Linked DNA regions of Homo sapiens. The main gene of each other region encodes a partner of the protein of the gene in region 2 in a complex. Each region holds a gene or a part of one and is shown on either strand. Other genes may lie near its edges. A codon is read from its position in the direction of its gene.

What was found. The genes of interacting proteins can lie anywhere in the genome.
Region 1: the proteins of RHOA (region 2) and TRPV4 are in contact, whole or in part, in a cryo-EM structure (PDB 9IQX), measured with the Homo sapiens proteins. Residues at the interface, in NP_001300870.1 of Homo sapiens: Met1, Ala2, Ala3, Arg5, Tyr34, Pro36, Val38, Phe39, Glu40, Asn41, Tyr42, Val43, Glu54, Trp58, Glu64, Asp65, Arg68, Leu69, Leu72, Pro75, Asp76; in NP_067638.3 of Homo sapiens: Lys177, Arg179, Thr181, Glu183, Glu184, Arg186, Pro188, Arg224, Glu225, Asn228, Ser229, Pro230, Arg232, Arg237, Asp263 (codon at 1,735), His265 (codon at 1,741), Ala266 (codon at 1,744), Gln267 (codon at 1,747), Arg269 (codon at 1,753), Asp313 (codon at 3,590), Arg315 (codon at 3,596), Arg316 (codon at 3,599).
Region 3: the proteins of RHOA (region 2) and ARHGEF25 are in contact, whole or in part, in a crystal structure (PDB 2RGN), measured with the Homo sapiens proteins. Residues at the interface, in NP_001300870.1 of Homo sapiens: Arg5, Tyr34, Pro36, Thr37, Val38, Glu40, Asn41, Val43, Asp45, Glu54, Trp58, Asp59, Ala61, Gly62, Gln63, Asp65, Tyr66, Asp67, Arg68, Leu69, Leu72, Pro75, Asp76; in NP_891992.3 of Homo sapiens: Tyr163 (codon at 740), Val164 (codon at 737), Glu167 (codon at 728), Thr171 (codon at 716), Met174 (codon at 707), Tyr175 (codon at 704), Asp178 (codon at 695), Cys253, Lys256, Pro257, Glu260, Ser264, Arg275, Arg281, Leu282, Asn285, Asp286, Ile289, Lys290, Val292, Gln293, Arg294, Met296, Lys297, Gln299, Leu300, Leu301, Cys327, Pro330, Lys331.

What each region holds. Positions count from the first base shown.
Region 1 is NC_000012.12:109,795,399-109,802,418, reverse strand, and holds part of TRPV4 (transient receptor potential cation channel subfamily V member 4), read left to right. Parts: intron 1-1,660; coding exon 1,661-1,801; intron 1,802-3,506; coding exon 3,507-3,805; intron 3,806-5,714; coding exon 5,715-5,894; intron 5,895-7,020. UniProt on the Homo sapiens protein: Non-selective calcium permeant cation channel involved in osmotic sensitivity and mechanosensitivity. Activation by exposure to hypotonicity within the physiological range exhibits an outward rectification.
Region 2 is NC_000003.12:49,401,968-49,408,987, forward strand, and holds part of RHOA (transforming protein RhoA isoform 1 precursor), read right to left. Parts: intron 4,840-7,020; exon of another isoform or gene 4,745-4,839; intron 1-4,744. UniProt on the Homo sapiens protein: Small GTPase which cycles between an active GTP-bound and an inactive GDP-bound state.
Region 3 is NC_000012.12:57,607,566-57,614,434, reverse strand, and holds the start of ARHGEF25 (rho guanine nucleotide exchange factor 25), read right to left. Parts: upstream 3,001-6,869; 5' UTR 2,541-3,000; coding exon 2,444-2,540; intron 1,680-2,443; exon of another isoform or gene 1,539-1,679; intron 1,506-1,538; coding exon 1,291-1,505; intron 1,172-1,290; coding exon 1,076-1,171; intron 996-1,075; coding exon 919-995; intron 742-918; coding exon 675-741; intron 420-674; coding exon 316-419; intron 105-315; coding exon 35-104; intron 1-34. Other genes in the region: probable E3 ubiquitin-protein ligase DTX3, read right to left, coding at 5,283-5,358, 5,698-5,915, 6,822-6,869. UniProt on the Homo sapiens protein: May play a role in actin cytoskeleton reorganization in different tissues since its activation induces formation of actin stress fibers. It works as a guanine nucleotide exchange factor for Rho family of small GTPases.

The sequences.
Region 1 (7,020 bases), on a different chromosome or scaffold from region 2:
GAGGCAGGAGAATCGCTTGAACCTGGGAGGTGGAGGTTGCAGTGAGCCAATATCGCGCCATTGCACTCCAGCTTGGGCAACAAGAGCAAGACTCATCTCAAAAAAAAAAAAAAGATGCAAAAAAAGCCAGGCTTGTTGGTGCACACCTGTAGTCCCAGCTACTTGGGAGGCTGGGGTGGGAAGATCACTTGAGCTCAGAGGGTCAAGGCTTCAGTGAGCTATGATTGTGCCACTGCACTCCAGCCTGGGTGACAGAGTGAGACCCTGTCTCAAAAAAAAAAAAAAAAAGATTCCAAGATTCTGAGATGCAGCGAGTCTAGTGATCATGAACTCGGGATCTGGCCCTAAGATGCTGTGGTGGCGGATACTCTAAGGCTCTATGATAATAAGTCCTGAGTTCACAAGTTCTAAGAGGCAAAGGCAGCAGGGGGCCAAGAACTGGGCCAATCCCCAGTTGAGATTCTGTAAATCAGAGTTGACCTTCAGATGCCTGGATATTAAGATTCAAAATCCATGAATATTATATCTTGAGTCCAAAATTCTGGGAGGCCAAGGTACTGTTGTTTCCTCTAGGAGTTTTCTTTTTTTTGAGACAAGGTCTTGCTCTGTTACCCAAGCTGGAGTGCAGTGGTGTGATCATGGCTCACTGCAGCCTTGACTTCCTGGGCTCAAGGGAGTCTCCCACCTCACCCTCCCAAGTAGCTGGGACCACCGGCATGGACCACCATGCCAGGCTAATTTTTAAAATTTCTGTAGAGACAGGGTCTCACTATGTTGTTGTATTAGCCCGTTCTCATGCTGCTATAAAGAACTGCCCAAGACTGGATAATTTATAAAGGAAAGAGGCTTAATTGACTCACAGTTCCGCAGGGCTGGGGAGGCATCAGGAAACTTACAATCATTGTGGAAGGGGAAGCAAACATGTCCTTCTTCACATGGTGGTAGGAAGAAGAAGTGCCAAGCAAAAGGGGGAAAAGCCCCTTATAGAATCATCAGATCTCTTGAGGACTCACTCACTATCATGAAAACAGCATGAGGGTAACTGCCCCCATGATTAAATTACCTTTCACAGGGTCCCTCCCATGATACATGGGGATTATGGGAACTACAATTCAAGGTGAGATTTAGGTGTGGACACAGAGCCAAACCATATCAGTTGCCCAGGCTGGTACTGAACTGCTAGGCTTCAGCAATCCTCCTGCCTCAGCCTCTGGAGTAGCTGGGACCACAGGTGTAAGTCACCAGGCCCAGCTAATTTTTAGCATTTCTATAGAGATGGGATCTCACTGTGTTGCCCAGGCTTGCCTCAAACGCCTGGGCTCAGGTGATCTCCCTCCTTGGTCTCCCAAATTGCTGGGATTACAGGCGTGAGCCTGCGCCTGGCCTCCTCTAGGATTTTTAAAGCATCTTATGAATCTAAAAACTTCTCACATTCAGGATTCCACAAACTAGGTATCCTTCAGGCTTGAGATTCTGCTTCTGCGATGGATCCCAGGGAATATCCAAGGACCTATTTGCTGCCCTTGGGTGTCGCTGGGCAGGACTCTGCCTGCATCCCCCACCCCCCAATTTCTACGTCCTGCACCCTACCCCCACCCCCAGCAAGCCTGGCTAGGTCTCTGCTCCGCCAGGACCCTGGATGACCGTCCCCTGCCCCCAGGTCAGACAGCCCTGCACATCGCCATTGAGCGTCGCTGCAAACACTACGTGGAACTTCTCGTGGCCCAGGGAGCTGATGTCCACGCCCAGGCCCGTGGGCGCTTCTTCCAGCCCAAGGATGAGGGGGGCTACTTCTACTTTGGTAAGGAGGGGCCTGGTGGGGGCTGACAGCATGCTGGAGAAGCATGGCGGGAGATAGCATGATACTGGTTGGTGTCTGCAGCCCTGACCATCACCCAGACACCCAGGGCCACTCTGGCCATGAGCGCAGGCAGCACTCTGGACCACAGGCTGCACGTTGGTCTTGGTCACAGGGCCGTTGCCTCTGAGGTGTAAGTGCCATGGGGAGTACCATGGACCTGGATTCAGATCCTCACTCCAGCCAGGCACGGTGTCTCACACCTGTCATCCCAGCACTTTGGGAGGTCAAGGCAGGAGGATCGCTTGAGGGCAGGAGTTTGAGACCAGCCTAGGCAACATAGCAATACCCTGTCTCTTTTAAACATTTAAAAAATGGCTGGGCACGGTGGCTCATGCCTGTAATCCCAGCACTTTGGGAGGATGAGGCAGGTGGATCACCTGAGGTCAAGAGTTCAAGACCAGCCTGGCCAACAAGATGGTGAAACCCATCTCTACAAAAATAACAAAAATTAGCCGGGCATGGTGGTGGGTGCCTGTAATCCCAGCTACTTGGGAGGCTGAGGCAGGAGAATTGCTTGAACCTGGGGGACAGAGGTTGCAATGAGCCGAGATTTCCCCATTGCACTCCAGCTTGGGTGACAGAGTGAGACTCTGTCTCAAAAAATAAATAAATAAATAAATAAATAAATAAGTTAGATGGCATGGTGGCATGTGCTTGAAGTCCCAGCTGCTTGGGAGGCCGAGGCTGGAGGATCACTTGAACCTAGGAGTTCGAGGCTGCAGTAAGCCATGATTGCACCACTGCACTCCAGCCTGGAAAATAGAGCAAGACCCCGTCTTTAAAAAGCAAAAAGAAAAGAACAAAAAAAAAGCCAAATCCTCACTCTGCACTTTCCAGGCATGTGACCTCACTTCCCTGAGCCTCACCTTCCCCAGCTGTGCAGTGGGGATCACGAGAGGCCCTTGGGCTGTGATGTCAGCGCCCAGCTCTGTATTGTCTGTGTGCTTTAATCTGGTTTATGCTGGGACCAACAGCCCCATCACCAGGCCCAAAGCCCACCACTGCCGTTGTCATCACTGGACTCATGAAATATTTTGAATTTTGCCCCTGCTTAAAGGCATTCATTATGTGCAGCTCAGGGACAAAGTCACACAAAGAATTCCATCATCAGCTGGGCGCGGTGGCTCACGCCTGTAATCCCAGCACTTTGGGAGGCCGAGGTCGGCGGATCACTTGAGGTCAGGAGTTTGAGACCAGCCTGGCCAACATGGCGAAATCCTGCCTCTACTAAAAATACAAAAATTAGCCAGGTGTGGTGGCGTGCGCCTGTAATCCCAGCTACTCGGCTGAGGCACAAGAACTGCTTGCACCCGGGAGGTGGAGGTTGCAATGAGCCGAGATTGTGCCACTGCACTCCAGCCTAGGCGACAGAGTGAGACTTTGTCTCAAAAAAAAAAAAAAAAAGAATTCCATCATTGGATGTGTCCAGTCCCTCACAGCCTCCAAATCGCGTGGCTGTGCCCTTAACTAGCCACACCCCATCTCCCTGGCATCACCCAGAGAAACGTGCAGTTCATATCCACTGCTGGTGCTGTCTCCGTCATTATCCTCAGAGCGCCACGGTGTCCGTCCCCCGAGTGTCTGCAGGCAGAGTCCCACCCTGGGCCCCCTTCGCTGACCTCCCACCCTTCACCCTGGCCCGCAGGGGAGCTGCCCCTGTCGCTGGCTGCCTGCACCAACCAGCCCCACATTGTCAACTACCTGACGGAGAACCCCCACAAGAAGGCGGACATGCGGCGCCAGGACTCGCGAGGCAACACAGTGCTGCATGCGCTGGTGGCCATTGCTGACAACACCCGTGAGAACACCAAGTTTGTTACCAAGATGTACGACCTGCTGCTGCTCAAGTGTGCCCGCCTCTTCCCCGACAGCAACCTGGAGGCCGTGCTCAACAACGACGGCCTCTCGCCCCTCATGATGGCTGCCAAGACGGGCAAGATTGGGGTGAGTGTGCGGCTGGGGGCACAGCTGATCCACCTACTCGTACCCCTCTGCACACACACACGAGGGTCTGCTGCTGGTATTCATTATTAATACGTGCATGCACCTCCCAACATGCCAACCCCAGTGTGCAGATGTCCCAGCTCAAGAACCTGCTATGGCTCCCTAGTGTCCAGCCAAGCTCCTTAGCTTCATCCCCGAGCCTCTCGCCTCATGTCACCCTACTGGATGTTCACCACTCCACCCCCACCAGCCAGGATGAGCCACTGATAAGAAACTGAGTCCCCGGGCCCTAGCCCAGCGGTGCTCCCAGCCTCAAACCTGTTGAATGGCCCTGCCCCAGTTCCTTCCCTTTTCTGGGCCGCGCAGCATGGGGCCTGGAGAAGGGTTTCTCAACTTCAGCATGATTATTTTGGGCGGCAGGCTCTTTGTGGTGGGGACCGTCTTGTGCTATTGCCAGACATTGATCTGCATCCCGGGCCTCTACCCACCAGATGCCAGGAACACCTCCCCTTACACTTGTGACCACCAAAAATATCTCCAGAACATTGCTGAATTGTCCTCTGGGGGGCACCATCGCTGGATTGGGAACCAAGTCTGGAGTATGCTAGAGGCAGGAGCACCTGTCCAAGCCCTGGCGCTACCACTTCCCAGTGTGTGACCTCAGACATCTCATTTCCCTTTTCTGTGCCTCAGTTTCCTTGTCTGTAAAATGGGGATATAAGAGTGTCCTCTGGTGTGGTGTTGTGACAAATGCGGTGATCCACATAAGGCTCTTAGGAAGGAGCCTGGGAGAAGCAGTAAGTGTCACTTACATGTCTGTAATGCCAGCTAGTTGGGAGGCTGAGGTGAGAGGATCGTTTAAGTCCAGCCTGGATTATTTGAGATCCCAAATAAATAAAAACCAAAATAAAAAAAAATGTAGCAAAAATTACTAAAATTGCAATTATACCATGGCCCTGAGGCAGTAGAAAGGCTCCAGTTTAAATCCTGGCTTTGGCTAGGCTCAGTGGCTCGTGTCTGTAATCCTAGCACTTTGGGAGGCTGAGGTGGGAGGAGCACTTGAGCCCAGGAGGTTGAGGCTGCAATGAGCTGTGATAGTGCCATTGCACTCCAGCCTGGGCAACAGAGCCAGACCCTGTCTCAAAAAACCCCAAAATCCTGGCTGTGCACAGTGGCTCATGCCTGTAATCCCAGCACTTTGGGAGGCCGAGGTGGGCGGATCACCTGAGGTCAGGAGTTCAAGACCAGCCTGGCCAACATGGTGAAACCCCGTCTCTACTAAAAATACAAAAATATTAGCTGGGTGTGATAGTGGGCACCTGTAATCCCAGCTACTCAGGAGGCTGAGGCAGGAGAATTGCTTGAACCTAGGAGGAGAGGGTTGCAGTGTGCTGAGATCGCGCCACTGCACTCCAGCCTGGGTGACAGAGAGAGACTCTGTCTCAAAACAAAAACCCCAAAATCCTAACATTGCCTGACCTTGGGCAATTCCCACCCCTCTCTGTGCCTCCGCTTCCCTGTGTGTAAGCCAGGGAAGGAGGAGTGGTAACAGGAAGGACCGCATGTGATCGTCAGTATTATAATTCACATGTCATTAAGATGGATTCATTGCTATTTTAACGGCATGAAGAAGATATTCATTACAATTAAGATGTTGAAGGCTCATCCAGGTTCTGTCTGGCTCCAGCTGACTGGTTAAGTGGCTTCTGGAACACCCTTCGTTTTTCCCAGCCTCCATTCTTTATCTGTAAACCAAGATAATAAGAGCAAGAATTAAACAAGATGAGGAAAGGGTCCTCCAGCAGCCGGTGCTTAGCTGTTTTCTGGGGAGGCGTCATGTGCTGAGCTGGGCCCAGCCCTGGGGGTCTTTCCAGTGTGAGCCCCCTGACCCTCCTGGCCCCCTGTGCAGATCTTTCAGCACATCATCCGGCGGGAGGTGACGGATGAGGACACACGGCACCTGTCCCGCAAGTTCAAGGACTGGGCCTATGGGCCAGTGTATTCCTCGCTTTATGACCTCTCCTCCCTGGACACGTGTGGGGAAGAGGCCTCCGTGCTGGAGATCCTGGTGTACAACAGCAAGATTGAGGTGGGCTCCAGGAGGGGGCATGGGGTGTGAGGAAGGAGGGGCAGGGCTGGGAGTAGGGACAGGGCCCTGGGGCTGGGCTGGGGGAGACAGCCCCAGCCTCTAGGACCCAACGTGGTGGGTCTGTTGGCTGAATGCAAGAGAAGGTGCCAACTAAGTGCCCAGAACAGTGTCTGCCATGTGAGGAAATGAGCAAGACTTGTGGGAAGATGGACTTTTGGGGCAGGTAGGACTGGGTTGGGATCCTGGCTCTGTAACTTACATGCTGTGTGTCTCAGGACAAGTGGCTCCACCTCTCTGGGTCTCAGCTTCTTCATTTGTAACCTGGGGATAAGGATCATGGATATCCCATGGGGTTCTTGGGAGGACCAAAGAGGTTAATTTTAGAATGGCTTGGCACAGAGTAAACATTATGTCAGCTTTTACTACTCATGGTTGTTATATGAACTTTTGAAAGCTCTTTTTTTTCGGTCAGGCATGGTGGCTTATGCCTGTAATTCTAGCATTTTGGGGAGCCAAGGTGGGCGGATTGCTTGAAGCCAGGAGTTTGAGACTAGCCTGGGCAATATGGCGAAACCCCGTCTCTACCAAAAAAAAATAATAAAAATGAAAATTAGCTAGGCATGGTGGTGCGAGCCTGTAGTCCCAGCTACTTGGGAGGCGAGGTGGGAGGATCACCTGAGCCTGGGGAGGTCGAGGCTTCAGTGAGCCGAGATCATGCCACTGCACTCCAGCCTGGGTGACAGAGTGAGATCCTGTCTCAAAATAAACAAACAAACAAACAAACAAAAAACCAAGCTTTTTTTTCCCTACTTAGCAGTATTTTGTGAACGTCGTTCTGTACTTTTAAATATTCTTTGGTAATATTGTCGCTGCATGTAAACATACCATATTCAAATGAACTGTTCTCTTATTGCTGGTCGCTTGGGTTTGTTTCTGCCTTTATCAGGAATAACACTATAAGAGCATCTCTGTGGCTGCTTTATTGCACAAATCATGATTATAGAGAAACTCAAGTTAATAAAGGGCTAGGAAGCTATAAAAATGGAGCAGAAAATGCTGGGGACTGGGTGCAGGTGGTCTTCCTTCTAGCCCTGCCCTGTGGCTTACTGGTCTGTGAGCTTGGCTT
Region 2 (7,020 bases):
TGTAGCAGTAAGGGCACTTGGAGATCAAGAGCAGCAGGAATAAGGCACATGGTGGTAAGCAATGAAGAAAACCTTCAATTTACTGCCAAGTGAAAATCACTTCAAACTCAAGTTCTTTGGGGAAAGACAGGCAAGGAACAATCCCTGAGGTAACATACCGTCAAGTTTCCTAAATAAGAGCATGAAATCATTTATCTCAAAATGTAAATATTATAAGGTTAACCTTCAATGGATGCACAGAATCAGGATTTGACTTTGTTTGGCCTAATTCCAAACTTACATTGCCTCTAAGACAATGCGTATCTAGTAAAACTGACAAAGAAAAATGAACCATTAGGTACCTCCCAGTGAGCTGGCTAAGAATTTATATATGCTTATTGTAAACCTTATTGCAGGAGTTTACTTTTACCAAGTATATATATTTCTTAAAATAAAAAACTAGGCCGGGTGCAGTGGTTCACACCTATAATCCCACCACTTTGCGAGGCCAGAGCTCAGGAGTTAGAGACCAGCCTGGACAACATGGCAAAACGTCATCTCTATAAAAATTAAATTAATTAACTAGGTATGGTGGTGCTTGCCTGTAGTCCCAGATGCTCATGAGGCTGAGGCAGGAGTATTACTTGGGCACAAGAGTTAGAGGCTGCAGTGAGCCACGATAGCACCACTGCACTCCAGCCTGGGAAACAGATCAAGACTCTGTCTCAAAAACAAACCAAAACTTGTCATATTCTAGGAAGCCAAGCAAATAAAACGAATGAACAAAAAAACTAGTCTAAAAAACTTTAGGCCAGGAGCAGTGGCTCACACCTGTAATTCCAGCACTTTGGGAGACCGAGGCAGGAGGATCACAAGGTCAGGCCTTTGAGACCAGCCTGGCCAACATGGCGAAACCCCGTATCCACTAAAAACACAAAAAATTAGCCGGGCGTGGTGGCGGGTGCCTGTAGTTCCAGCTACTCGGGAGGCTGAAGCAGAAGAATCGCTTGAACCCGAGAGGCGGAGGTTGCAGTGAGTTGAGATCGTGCCACTGCACTGCAGCCTGGGCAACAGAGCGAGATTCCATCTCATAAAAAAAAAAAAAAAGAAACCCGCCGAGCGCGGTGGCTCACGCCTGTAATCCCAACACTTTGGGAAGCAGAGGCAGGCGGATCACAAGATCAGATCGAGACCATCCTGGCTAACAGAGTGAAACCCCATCTCTACTAAAAATACAAAAAGTTAGCTGGGTGTGGTGGCACGCACCTGTAGTCCCAGCTACTCAGGAGGCTGAGGCAGGGGAATCACTTGAACCCGGGAGGCAGAGGCTGCAGTGAGCCAAGATTGCGGCACTGCACTCCTAGATGACAGAATAAGACTCCGTCTCAAAAATAAAAATAAAAATTTAAAGCCTTGAGGAAATGCTCTTTAACTCGACTGAGTGGCAATTACTTGGGTATACACATTCATCAAAATTTATCAAACTGGCGGTTTGTGGTGGCTCATGCCTATAATCCCAGGGCTTTGTGAGGTTGAGACGAGAGAATCACTTAAGGCCAGGAGTTCAAGACCAGTCTGAGCACATAGTGAGACCCCTCTCTCTACAAAAAAAAAAATTACAAAATAAAAATGTAGCCAGGCGTGGTGGTGCACACCTGCAGTCCCAGCTACTCGGGAGGCTAAAGCAGAGAATTCTTGGGCCTAGGAGGTCGAGGATGTAGTAAGCCATGATTCCGACACTGCACTTCAGCTGGGTGACAGAACAAGGCCCTATGTCTAAAAAAAATAAGAACAAAAAAATTATCAAACTATCATTTAAAGTATGTGCATTTTATTGTATGCAAATTAAACCTCCATGAAGGTAATTAAACCTCAGGTGATTCCAATTTGGGGAACTGGATTCCAAGTTTGGGAACAGTGGAGTCTAGGAACCACTGTTCTTAAGTACCAGGAACCAAGTAGTAAGCCCTGTTTTATTCCAAGAAATCTTAGGGTGCTACTCCCACTACCCTCCCACCACCCCCGAAAAAAGGTACTACAAACTGTAACCTGAATAGTGAAAGTTGAAGATAGCTGGACTCAGTGGCTCATGCCCGTACTTGCAGCACTTTGGGAGTCTGAGGTGGGAGGACTGTTTGAGCCCAGGAGTCTGAGACCCAACCTGGGCAAGACAGCAAGACTCCATCTCTACAAAATGTAAAAATATTAGCTGGGCGCAGTGGCACATACACCTGTAGTCCCAGCTACTAGGGAGGACGAGGCGTAAGGATACCTTGACACCAAAAGTTGGAGGCCACCATGAGCTATGACTGTGCCACTGCACTCCAGCCTAGATGACAAAACAAGACCTTATCTCTCCAAAAAAAAGCCAGGCGCAGTGGCTCACACCCGTAATCCCAGTACTTTGGGAAGCCAAGGCAGGTGGATCACAAGGTCAGGAGTTCAAGACCAGCCTGGCCAACAAAGTAAAACCCCGTCTCTAGTAAAACACACACACACACACACACACACAAAATTAGCCGGGCATGGTGGCACGCACCTGTAGTCCCAGCTACTTGGGAGGCTGAGGCAGGAGAATCGCTTGCACCCTGGTAGGCAGAGATTGCAGTGAGCCGAGATTGTGCCACTACACTCCAGCTTAGACAACAGAGCAAGACTCCGTCTCAAAAAAAAAAAAAAAAAAAAAAAAAAAGGCCAGAAGGCCAGGCACGGTGGCTCACGGCTGTAATCCTAGCACTTTGGGAGGCCAAGGCAGGCAGATTGCCTGAGCTCAGGAGATGGAGACCAGCCTGGGCAACATGGTTAAACCCCGTCTCTACTAAAATACAAAAAAAAAAAAAAATTAGCCAGGCGTGGCAGCATGCACCTGTAGTCCCAGTTTACCTGGGAGGCTAAGGCAGGAGAACCGCATGAACCCGGGAGGCAGAGTTTGCAGTGAGCCGAGATCACGCCACTGCACTCCAGCCTGGGCGACAGAGCGAGACTCTTGTCTCCAAAAAAAAAAATAATAAAAAAAGTAGGCCAGGCGCGGTGGCTCACACCTATAATCCCAACACTTTGGGAGGCGGAGGCAGGCAGATCACCTGAGGTCAGGAGATCGGGACCATCCTGGCTAACACGGTAAAACCCTGTCTCTACTAAAAATACAAAAAAAAAAAACACCTAGCCGGGCGTGGTGGCGGGCACCTGTAGTCTCAGCTACTCAGGAGGCTGAGGAAGGAGAACTGCTTGAACTCGGAGGGCGGAGGTTGCAGTGAGCCGAGATCGCGCCACTGCACTCCAGCCTGGGTGACAGAGCGAGACTGTGTCTCAAAAAAAAAAAAAAAAAAAAAAAAATTAGCTGGGCATGGTGACATGCCTGTAAACCCCAACTAATGGGGAGGCTGAGGCAGGAGAATCACTTGAATCCAGGAGGTGGAGGTTGCAGTGAGCTGGGATCACGCCATTGCACTCCAGCCTGGGCAACAAGAGCAAAACTCCATCTCAAAAAATAAATAAATAAAATAAGTTAGTTGAAGGGCTACATGTCTGGCACTTGAGGTAAGTGCTTCTCTCTCACTGAAATCTCATGGCGCTTCCTTACCATTCCCTTTCTACAGAAGAAAAAAACTGAATTACAAAGGAGACATACTACTGCCAAGGGTCTCAAGCCATCAAGTGTCAGAGCTAGTATTTAACTGTCAGTTTCTCTCCAGAATCCATGCTCTTAAATAAGATACTCTACTGCCTTTTCTTTCCTTCTTTTTTTTGTGTGTATGTTTGAGACGGAGTTTCGCTCTGTTGCCCGGGCTGGAGTGCAGCAATCTTGGCTCACTGCAACCTGCGCCTCTCAAGTTCGAGGGATTCTCCTGCTTCAGCCTTCCGAGTAGCTGGGATTACAGGCACTCACTAATACACTCGGCTGATTTTTGTATTTTTAGTAGAGATGGGGTTTCACCATGTTGGTCAGACTGGTTTCGAACTCCTGACCTCAGGTGACCCACCCACCTCGGCCTCCCAAAGTGCTGGGATAACTGGCATGAGCCACCATACGCAGCCTGCCTTCTGTTTCTGAACTTAAGATCTTCAAAAGATAAACAGAGCTTCATTATGAATAACTGGAAAAGTTAAACAAGAGATTTCATCCAGAAAAGAAATTTTCCACACACACAAAAAAACAGGTATTTCCAACAAAGCTGCCATATCACATAATAAAATTATCTTGTAGAAAAAAGCATTAACAAAGTGTTACAACATTAAATATCCATCTTAAATTTACTTCCTTAACCTCTCAAAGCCTATATCCCAAACAAAGTTACAAAAAAAAATCCCAGTAGTAGAGCATATGATCTCTAGGTCCATGGAAGAGACACCAGAGAATCACAACTCATCTGCAACATACAGACTAGGATACAATGGCTAGAAGAATACAGTAAAATAAAAATGTATACATAACAAAAGTTAGAATGCTCAACCATATACTTGAAGTCAAAACAAGCAACTTTTTTAAATCATGGGACTGAATCCTTGTGCTTTAGAGCAGCTATAAGCTTCAGAAATTAAAAATCTTGGCCAGGGTAGCTCACGCCCGTAATCCCAGCAGGAAGCTGAGGCGGGTGGATTGCCTGAGGTCAGGAATTTGAGACCAGCCTGGCCGACATGGTAAAATTCTTGTCTCTACTAAAATACAAAATACAAAAATTAGCCAAGGGTGGTGGGCAGGTGGTGGATGGCACCTGTAATCGAGCTAGTGGGTAGGTTGAGGCACGAGAATCGCTTGACTCACATCTTTAATCCCAGCACTTTGGGAGGCTGAGGCAGGAGGACAACTTGAGCCCAGGAGTACAAGATCTGTCTGGGCAACATAGCAAGACACCATCTCTAGTACAAAAAAAGAGAAGAAAAAAATAAAGCAAAAAAATTTTAAAAACAAATCCTTAGTGGCTCATGCTTGTAATCCCAACACCTTGGGAGGCCAAGGTGGGTGGGTCACGGGGTCACGAGGTCAAGAGATCAAGGCCATCCTGGCCAACATGGTGAGATCCCGTCTTTACTAAAAATACAAAAATTAGTCGGGCATGGTCACACACACACACCTGTAGTCCCAGCTACTCTAGAGACTGAGGCACGAGAATCGCTTGAACCTGGGAAACAAAGGTTGAAGTGAACAAAGATCACTCACTGCACTCCAGCCTGGGTGACAGTGAGACCCTGTCTCAAGAGAAGAGAAGAGAAGAACCAATGACTTCAAATAAAATAGGCAGAAGTCACTAAGTCAAGGAAATTAATATTATGAAATCCTTTCCGTTTTTTTTTTTTTTTTTTTTTTTTTGAGTCTTGCACCGTCTCCCAGGCTGGAGTGCAATGGCTCGATCTCTGCTCACAGCAACCTCCGCCTCCCAGGTTAAAGTGATTCTCCTATCTCAGCCTCCTGAATAGCCGGGATTATAGGCGCCTGCTGCCACGCCCAGCTAATGTTTTGTATTTTTAGTAGAGACAGGGTTTCACCATGTGGCCAGGCTGGTCTCAAACTCCTGACCTCAAGTGATCCACCTGCCCAGCACTTCCAAAGTGCTGGGATTACAGGCATCAGCCACTGCTCCCAGCCAGGAATTCCTTTTTATATTTGTCCAAATTATCATATTAGTTTACTATTTAGTCAGAATGGAATTAGATCTACTCCTACTCACAGTGATTCTAGTTTTTTTTTTAATATCAGATCATGTCATTCCCTTTCTAAAGAATATCTAAATGACTTCTAATCTCAGAACAAATCCAAAGAATTTCCCATGTCCTAAAGGCCCTATATGATTTGGCCCCTGCCCACCTCTCTAACCTCTTTTTACCTCCAACTTTTCCTTTCACTCCACTTCAAACTTACTTCATTGGCTGTGTATGTTTTCCTCTTTCCCTTCACTTAAATTTAAGATACTATCATAAATATGCTTAAATATGGCCAGACATAGTGGCTCTCACCTGCAATCTCAACACTTTCAGAGGCCAAGGGGGGCAGATCACAAGGCCAGGAGTTCGAGAACAGCCTGACCAACATGGTGAAACCCCGTCTCTACTAAAAATACAAAAATTAGCTGAGCACAGTGGCGCATGCTGGTACTCCCAACTACTCCAGAGGCCGAGGCACAAGAATCACTTGAACTAGGAGGCGGCGGTTGCAGTGAGCCGAGATGGCGCTACTGCACTCTGGCCCGGACGACAGAGTGAGACTCAGTCTCAAAAGAGAAAAAAAAAAAAATATATATATATACACACACACATACACACACGTATATGTACACATATATATACGTATACACGTATATGTACACATATATATACGTATACACGTATATACGTATACACAAGTATATATACATATACACACACACACATATGCTTAAATATACATACTCATCCTCTTCAAAAAATAAAATCAAGCTAAGTTTGGCATAAACTGCATACTGATTGCAATTTAGCAAGAGTATTTGATGTTTTTCTTTATTATTAGCTATAAAAATGTATTTGGATGAAGCATCAATAAACTGAGACCAACACCCAGAACGAGCAGCTTCAGTGCCTGATTTTCAGTCACATGACTATCGTAATTATGAACATACCAAGGCCTTCACTTAATACTACAGCTCCACAGATTAAAGATGAGGGATTTTATAGTAATTACAAACTTCAAACCGTCTTGGAAATTTTAATCCCACAAATGAGCATGTCCCCAAAGAGCCCCATGTATAGCAAGGCATGTAACATTAAGTTCAAAATTTAGTTATATTAATGTGTAGTTACAAGCAAACAGTTCCATTGGGCAGGTAAACAAAGGAATAAACTAAATGGCAGAGTCAGACAAAATACTTAAGATCCTTTTTTTTTTTTTTTGAGACGGAGTCTCGCTCTGTTGCCCTGGCTGGAGCACAGTGGCGCGATCTCAGCTCACGGCAAGCTCCGCCTCTCGGGTTCACGCCATTCCCCTGCCTCAGCCTCCAGAGCAGCTGGGACTACAGGCGCCCGCCACCACACCCAGCTAATTTTTTTTGTATTTTTAGTAGAGACGGG
Region 3 (6,869 bases), on a different chromosome or scaffold from region 2:
GCCCCGCCCCAGGCCCTGCCCCCTCAAGCCTCACGTGTTTGATGAATAGCTGAGCCAGCCAATCAGGATCTTTCAGACACCGTTGTAGCTCTTGCAAGAAATAGCTGGAGGGGTTGGTAGAGAAGCAGCAGGTCAAATACATTTCACAACCCCCACCTCGCCCACTCCCAGCAGTTTCGAGCTGTCTGCCCTGGTAGTGTGCCCTACAAAACTTCTCCAAACATTCCTTAAGTCGCAATGGGCTGATGTTAGGATACAGGACAACCAGATGAGGGCCCCTCTCCAGCACCTAGCTGTCAGAGTTCCACCACTCACTCTCGGTGCCACTCATAGATTTGCTGGATATTCCCAAACACAATCCTGTCACGGCCTCGAAGACTCTCGGGGACCCCCTGAGCAGCCATGGTGGCCATATAACCCTGTGGGAAAGTTGAGGTTGGGTCATGAGCATGTGGTGGCCCTCTCCCCACCTTAATGGTGCTCCTGTACACAAATCCAGGGTGTGTTCCACCTCCCCCTCCCTGGTGGGAGCCGCCCTGCCCCCAGAGTAGGAAGGTCCAGGAGTGGGGAGGCTTGAGAGGTGGGACAGAGGAGCGCCCAGGCACCTCCTGAAAATAGCCCTGGGCAGATGGAAAAGCAGGCAGGAGGGGCTGGGAAGGGGTAAAGGGAGCTACCTCCACAATCTGCCCCAAGTCGTCCACGTACATTTTCTCTGTTTCTACCAGTTCACTCAGGACATACCTAGGATGAAAGCAGGAGGAGGCCCCCACTTCAGCGTCGGAGCTCATCCTTGGTTCAGCCCGTTCCTCCCTCCTCCCCTTTATCATCATAGCCAACCTTGGAGGAAATTCCATCTAAAATGTGAGGGACAGTCTTCTGGAAGTTGTGCAACTGCAGGGAAGGGCTGTGGACACTTACATACTCCTTTCCAGAGCCTTCTTCTTCTGTTCCTCCTCACTCTCAGGGGCTTGGGACAAAGTCTCCTCTTCAGGTGGCTGGAAGGAAAGAACATCCTAGGGTGAGCAAACGAATGCCCCTTGAGTGAAAGGAGCCTCCCCAGAGCCTGTCCTCACACCTGCGTCTTATCTCCAGGGCCCTCCAACAGTGTGGTCAGCAAGGTCAGTTCCGGCAGCTCCTCTCCTGTGGCTAGAGCTGGCTCCAACATCCAGTTCTGGGGGCCAGAAATCAAGTGTCAGAGGTCGGGGACAGTAGCTGGGTGGCCCCAACTTGCCCTCTCTGCCAGTGTCCTTCATAGATGTCCCACATGCTTTGGTGCCGTTCCCTGCTCACCTCATATGGTCCTGCCTGACCACTGTCTGCCTCAGTTTCCACACTGAGACAATGTTTGGAATGATCCAACCATCTCCTCAGGCCACTGACGGGCCCTGGGGGGCCTGGGGAACAGGGGCCAGAGCTGAGGCCAGAGCTGGGGCCAGAGGGGGCAGCCAGACCGGAGGCAGCAGAAGCCGATATACTCCCCTCACTGCCCGCAATGGAATAGGATTCTAATGGGAGGAAAAAGAGAGGAGGTGATAGACCTTGCCCCAGCTCCAGACTCAGGGTCCCCAGGGAACTCCCAGGGTCTTCTCTTCATGATGCTCAGCCTCTCTCTCCAAGGGCTCACTCTCTTGCCATCCTCATTTGAGTTGGCCAGGATAGAAAATTTCACCAGGGCACCCCTGGGAGAAAGCACAGTAAGGTAAACGCCTGGCTCTCCAGGCCTGGAACCCCCAGTTACATGTGGAGGTTCCCCATATCCTGAGCATAGCATAGATATGGGGGTGGGGGCAGCCATCTGGGCAGACATTGGAAGCTGGGGGTGGCCATCTGCTCTCCTACAACCCTCCCTCTTTCAATGGGTACAGACCATTCTCTGGGAAGAGGGGAGGATGAGCTGGGTCCATCTGCCACTCCCAGTCCCCTCCTCCACCAATTGCAGTAATCACTATAAAAAGAAAAGACTTCTGCAGCCCACCTCCCCAACACATGCGTAGACCCAATAGAGGAGGCCAGTGAGGAGGGTCCATCAGGGTTATCGTTGGCCTGTGCTCAGCGACAGAGAGCTGTGATTCCTTATAAAGCCCCTTGTAGAACCACCTCATTCTCATTCCTCCATTCTCCTGTCCCTCTTCAGAAGTAGATTCTTAGCAAAAGGTTTGAGGAAAATAATCGGTTCTAGGCCTAAGGGGATTGTGGGTGGGTTTTTCTCAAACCCATTTGACAAAGGGAAAGAGATGAGTTCCCTGCCCCTTCCCCTATTTCCTTAACTTGAACTAACAGAAATTTGGAGGCAGAAGGGACCTTAGGGATCACTTAAGAAACCACTTTCCTGGAAAACACATACAGTCTCCAACCCTAAATCCCAAGGGCCAGGGCAAACAGATGCCCTGAACCCCCAGCCCGCCCCCCACTCAACACTGGACCCTCTCGACCTGGCACTCACCACGTCCCCCCCGGGCGAAGCAGCAGCCGCATTTTGCCAGCACTTTTCGGATCACACGGGGACAGGCACAGCGACCCCCTTTGTGCCCCCCCCGCATGGCGCCCGGGCCCCCCCGCGCCCCCCACCCGGGCCGGCCATGCAGGGGGAATCACGGGGGGCGGGGCGGGGACGGCGCCGGGCGCACACCCCCCCTCCCTCCTACCCCGGTCCAGGCTGTGGGAGGGGGGGAGGGAGGGGACCGGGAGGAGGTGTCCAGGGGTAGGCGGAAGTCTAGTCTTGAGGAGGGCTGGGGGCTCTAGAGAGAGAGAGGCGCGGGGCCCGGCCGCCGGGCTGGGCGGGGAGGGTTTCCGGAACCCTGTCGGTGCGGGGGCCTAGGGTCCAGATGTCCAGTGGAAGGGGGAGGGATGGTAGGGGAGGCTGGGCCGGGATGCGGCAGCCGCTCCAGCTGTCTCCGGCCTCTGGTTAGGGGTGGCTCTAGGCCCGGGCCGGGGAGGAGGCGAGGGCCGACCCCCGAGCCACTGGCGCTGTGCGGGTCCCAGCGGAGCGGAGAGCTGAATAACAGGCCTGGCCGCGGGGCCGCCACGAGGCGGGGCCTCTGCGGCCCAGCTCCGCCCTCTCCATCGCGTTCCCCCTCCTGCCTGCGCCGGGTTCCCGCCCCGATCGCCCCTCCCCCAGACACCACCACGTTCCCACTCCACGTCCCCAGCGCTTTTTCCCCTCCCCAGCCCGTGCTCCCCTGCCCCGGGGTCCCCCTCCCTCTCGCATCCCGGGCTCTGCGGAGCGCTGGGGTCGGGGTTCAGCCTGTCTGCAGGGTCTGCCCAGGTCTCCCCTTGGCCTCTGCGATGAAGGAGGACTCAGTGGATGGGGCCTTGGCCTGTGCGAAGATGTTCTGGGTTTGGGGCTGTCCCCGGCCGAGTGGACAGAGGCCCCCTGGTACGGGGTGCGTGTATGGGGAGTCTTTTGTGGGTGAACACAACCCAGATGCCGCCCTCTCTCAGGACCCTTCTTTCCTCCAGGCCCCGGGACTCCAGCTAAGACTAATCGCCAATTAAGGCGAAGTCCTGGAGCCCGGGCTGGCGAGGGGCCAGGGGTGGGGCGCGGGGACACTCTGCCTGCGAGGGCTCGGGATCGACTGGGATGGGGGACACACATTGGACTCGAAGGCAAGAAGAGTGGAGGTCTCTGCGATTAAATGGGTCTCATGCAAATTAGATGCGAACTTTATGCTAATAAGAATAGAATATTTTTGAATTCGCCACTTGGCGCAGGATAGCAAACTGTGCCCCACCCCACCCCCAGCTTCTTACCGGGCTGCAGAGCCCCGGCGAGGACCTCATGTTCGCGATCCCTTCTGTGATCTCCCTCCGTACGTTCAGACTCTGGCTCGGTACCCACCAACCCTAGAGGGCTTCTCCTTGGGGGCTGCGGGGACAGAACCACTGTAAGGAACCTGCCCTCCTAGGCAGCCCTGACCTCCCCCTTCCCCTTCTCCTACCTGTCAAAACCCACATTGTTATAAAAGGCTCGCCCAGAACGGGGCTATGGCCCTCGTAATAGAATTCATGTATTCCTGCGACTGCCCCGCAGAACTCGTTTTCGGATAAGTTGAGTTGTGGGTGCAGCCCTCCTGAAGGCCCCGAAAGACCCCCGACCCCACCGCGAGCCCCCATTCTTACCCCCTCCTGCCCAGGGAGGGCGCATGCGCGCAGCATGCCCCCCATGACCCCCAGTATCCGGTCAGTGCGGCCAGGGGCGGGGCGGTCCGGGGGCTTCATACTGAACCCCCACCCTGCTCCAAGTTTCAGGGTCGAGGGGGCACTGAAGCTGGGGGGCTTTGAGGCCTGCGCGCGTCCGGGGAGTTGCTGCTGCGGAATCCGCCCCCTGCCCGGCTCCGCCCCCACTCCCACCCCAGCCAAACTTCGCAGAGTGGCTAGGGTTGTTTTCTCTACAACCATAGTTGAACAACAAAAAAACACCCTCTTAATACTAATTCCAACATCGAAGTGACCCAGGGTTTCTCAGTGTTACTACAGAGCCCGCTGGTGCATCCCGTTTCCCCAGGTCCTCAGGAGGCAGAGGGACTGGGAGTGCACGCAGGGATCACCCCATCATCCCCTCTCCCCTTTCCAGCAGGTCCCTCTCCCCACCCCACCCCCACCCAGTCCCTGGAAAAGAACGGGTGTGGCATAAAGAGTTGCATATTTTACTTTATTTTTATTAAATTAAAAGCTACAGTCTGGCAGCGATTCCAGAACAGGGTAAGGAGGTTCCTCACAGGGGTCAGAGAAGAGCGGAGAAAGACAGACTGACGGAGACTGAGACACAGGAGAGAAAGGACAAGGTTAAGGGAGAACTGTATCTGATGAACACACACAGCCGGCTCCATGGCGGGTGACGGGGAGCTCACATCAGCCCAATTTCTCCTCCCCGGCACCCGAAGTTCAGCGGTGGAGCAGTATGTGGGGGCGGTTAGGAATCAAGAGACCCTCCCTTCCCCACCCTAGGTCCTTTCTCGGCTTGGTCGTGGAGCACAGCACATACCAGAAAAAGCCAAGGGCAATGGAGGGGCAGGGAAACCGGGAGTATATGTACACGGGGAGGGGAGAACAGAGCCTTGGAGGTCGGCCTCTGCCAGAAGGGAGTGGCTCACACTGCATTGAAACACTTGGCCAGTGGGGGATGGGGGAAGGGATTGCCCCCTCCCTCTCGGAACTCCCTTCCCAGTCAGACAGGTCCCCTACAGGTGTGGTGTGGGGGGCAGGGGGCAGAGAGGAGAAAGAGGCTTCTGCTGGGTCCTAGTAGAGGCAGACAGCAGGGGCCTTGGCAAAGGCGATGTCCTTCAGTCATCTGTGATACCCTTCGCTCTCAGCTCCTCTTGCACCCGGGTCAGGTAGGTGGGGTCTGGGTACCCAAACCTGGGAGCAAAGAGAAATGAGGGTGAGGGTTGTTAGCTGTTTGAACTTGCTATTATCCCCATGCTCACCCTCATTCTAGGTGGCTCAGACACCTCCCCACCTCCCCTAAGGGAGGACACCTCCAAATCCAAGATAATTTAGCCCAGTTCTGCTTATTTTTGTAGGCTAAGCTGGGCACACCAGGACCAGGTTGAATGTAGGAGAAACTGAGATGGCTGAACAGTTTGGAAGTGGTTCTCTCCAGTTAGGAGGCTCCGTGAGCGAGGGGTTGGTGGGTCCCTCAGTGGAAATGGAACAAAGGGGAGGAGCCAAGGGAAAGGAAATGAAGAGGGGTCGCACAGCTGGGGTCCCCCTGTGCAGCTGGTCTTGTGGTGGATGTCGTTCCAGGTGATGACATTCGGTCTCCCTGTGGTCATGGACGTGCCGATAGTGAAGGTGAGACGCTGGTCAAACGCCTTGCGGAACAGGGTCAGCACCTTGTTGCCCTCAGGGCAGTCCGGGAGGTAGGCCACCCGTGTGGTGCCAGGATACCGAACTCCTGGGTTTGGGTGTTCAGCCTGGGAGGAAGGTGAAGCAGAGTGGGCAGTGAGCAGCCAGGCATCCTAAGGCCCAGATGCCAGAGGAGGGTCATCCAGGCTAGTCTCTGTCTGAGCACCCCCAGCTAATGCGAACGGGGCAGCAACAGGCTGACAGCTTTCCACAGAAGGAGAGATTATACGGCCTCGGCAGCAAGAGCCTGTTTCAGAGCATAATCCTTATGTGTTAAGAGATTTTTTCTGCTGTCTCAATCCCTCAAGTCTCCATTCAGCAACAAATGGATTCTCAGAAGTGATGGAAGTTAGCTGGTCCCTACACTCCAGACAACTCAGCAAAAATGTGAAGACAGAATAATCTATCTTTCAGCCTTCCCTTCACCTGAAAATACTCCTAATGTTTCTGCCACTGTCTAACTTGTTCCATTTTCCATCACTCTTCTGTGCAGCTTCTTCACCCCTCTGCAGCCAGAATTGCACATTACTCTTTGTCCAGCAGGAAGACACCTATAGGCCTTGACTACTCCTGTTTTTACAGAGTGATGCTCCTGGCTCTGTTGGGTTGGTCAGATCCCTTCCTATTGTGCCTCCCTTCCCCTAAGCCACCACCTCCACAGAATTTACCTCTGCCAAGATGTCAGCACAGTATTTGTGTTCATCAAGGAAATAATATGCAATTCCTTCCTCTCATATCTGATTTGCTTTTTTTTTTCCTAGCTCATATCTGATTTTCACGTGTGCCTTGGGATCACAGGGATGGAAAGGCTGGGCCTCACGGGGACCTCCTAGGTCCAGGGCACTGAGTAGGAGGGCACAGTGGAAGACAGCAAGACTGTCTCACATCTAACAAGCACACTCACCCTCACCCGGTTTTCCTAGGTCAGAGCTTGGGGAAAGCCAAAGGGTAAGGGCAGGCCATGGTCTTCTTACCCCCTGGACACCGGGCGGGAAGACGTACTGGATGACAATGGTGCCGTA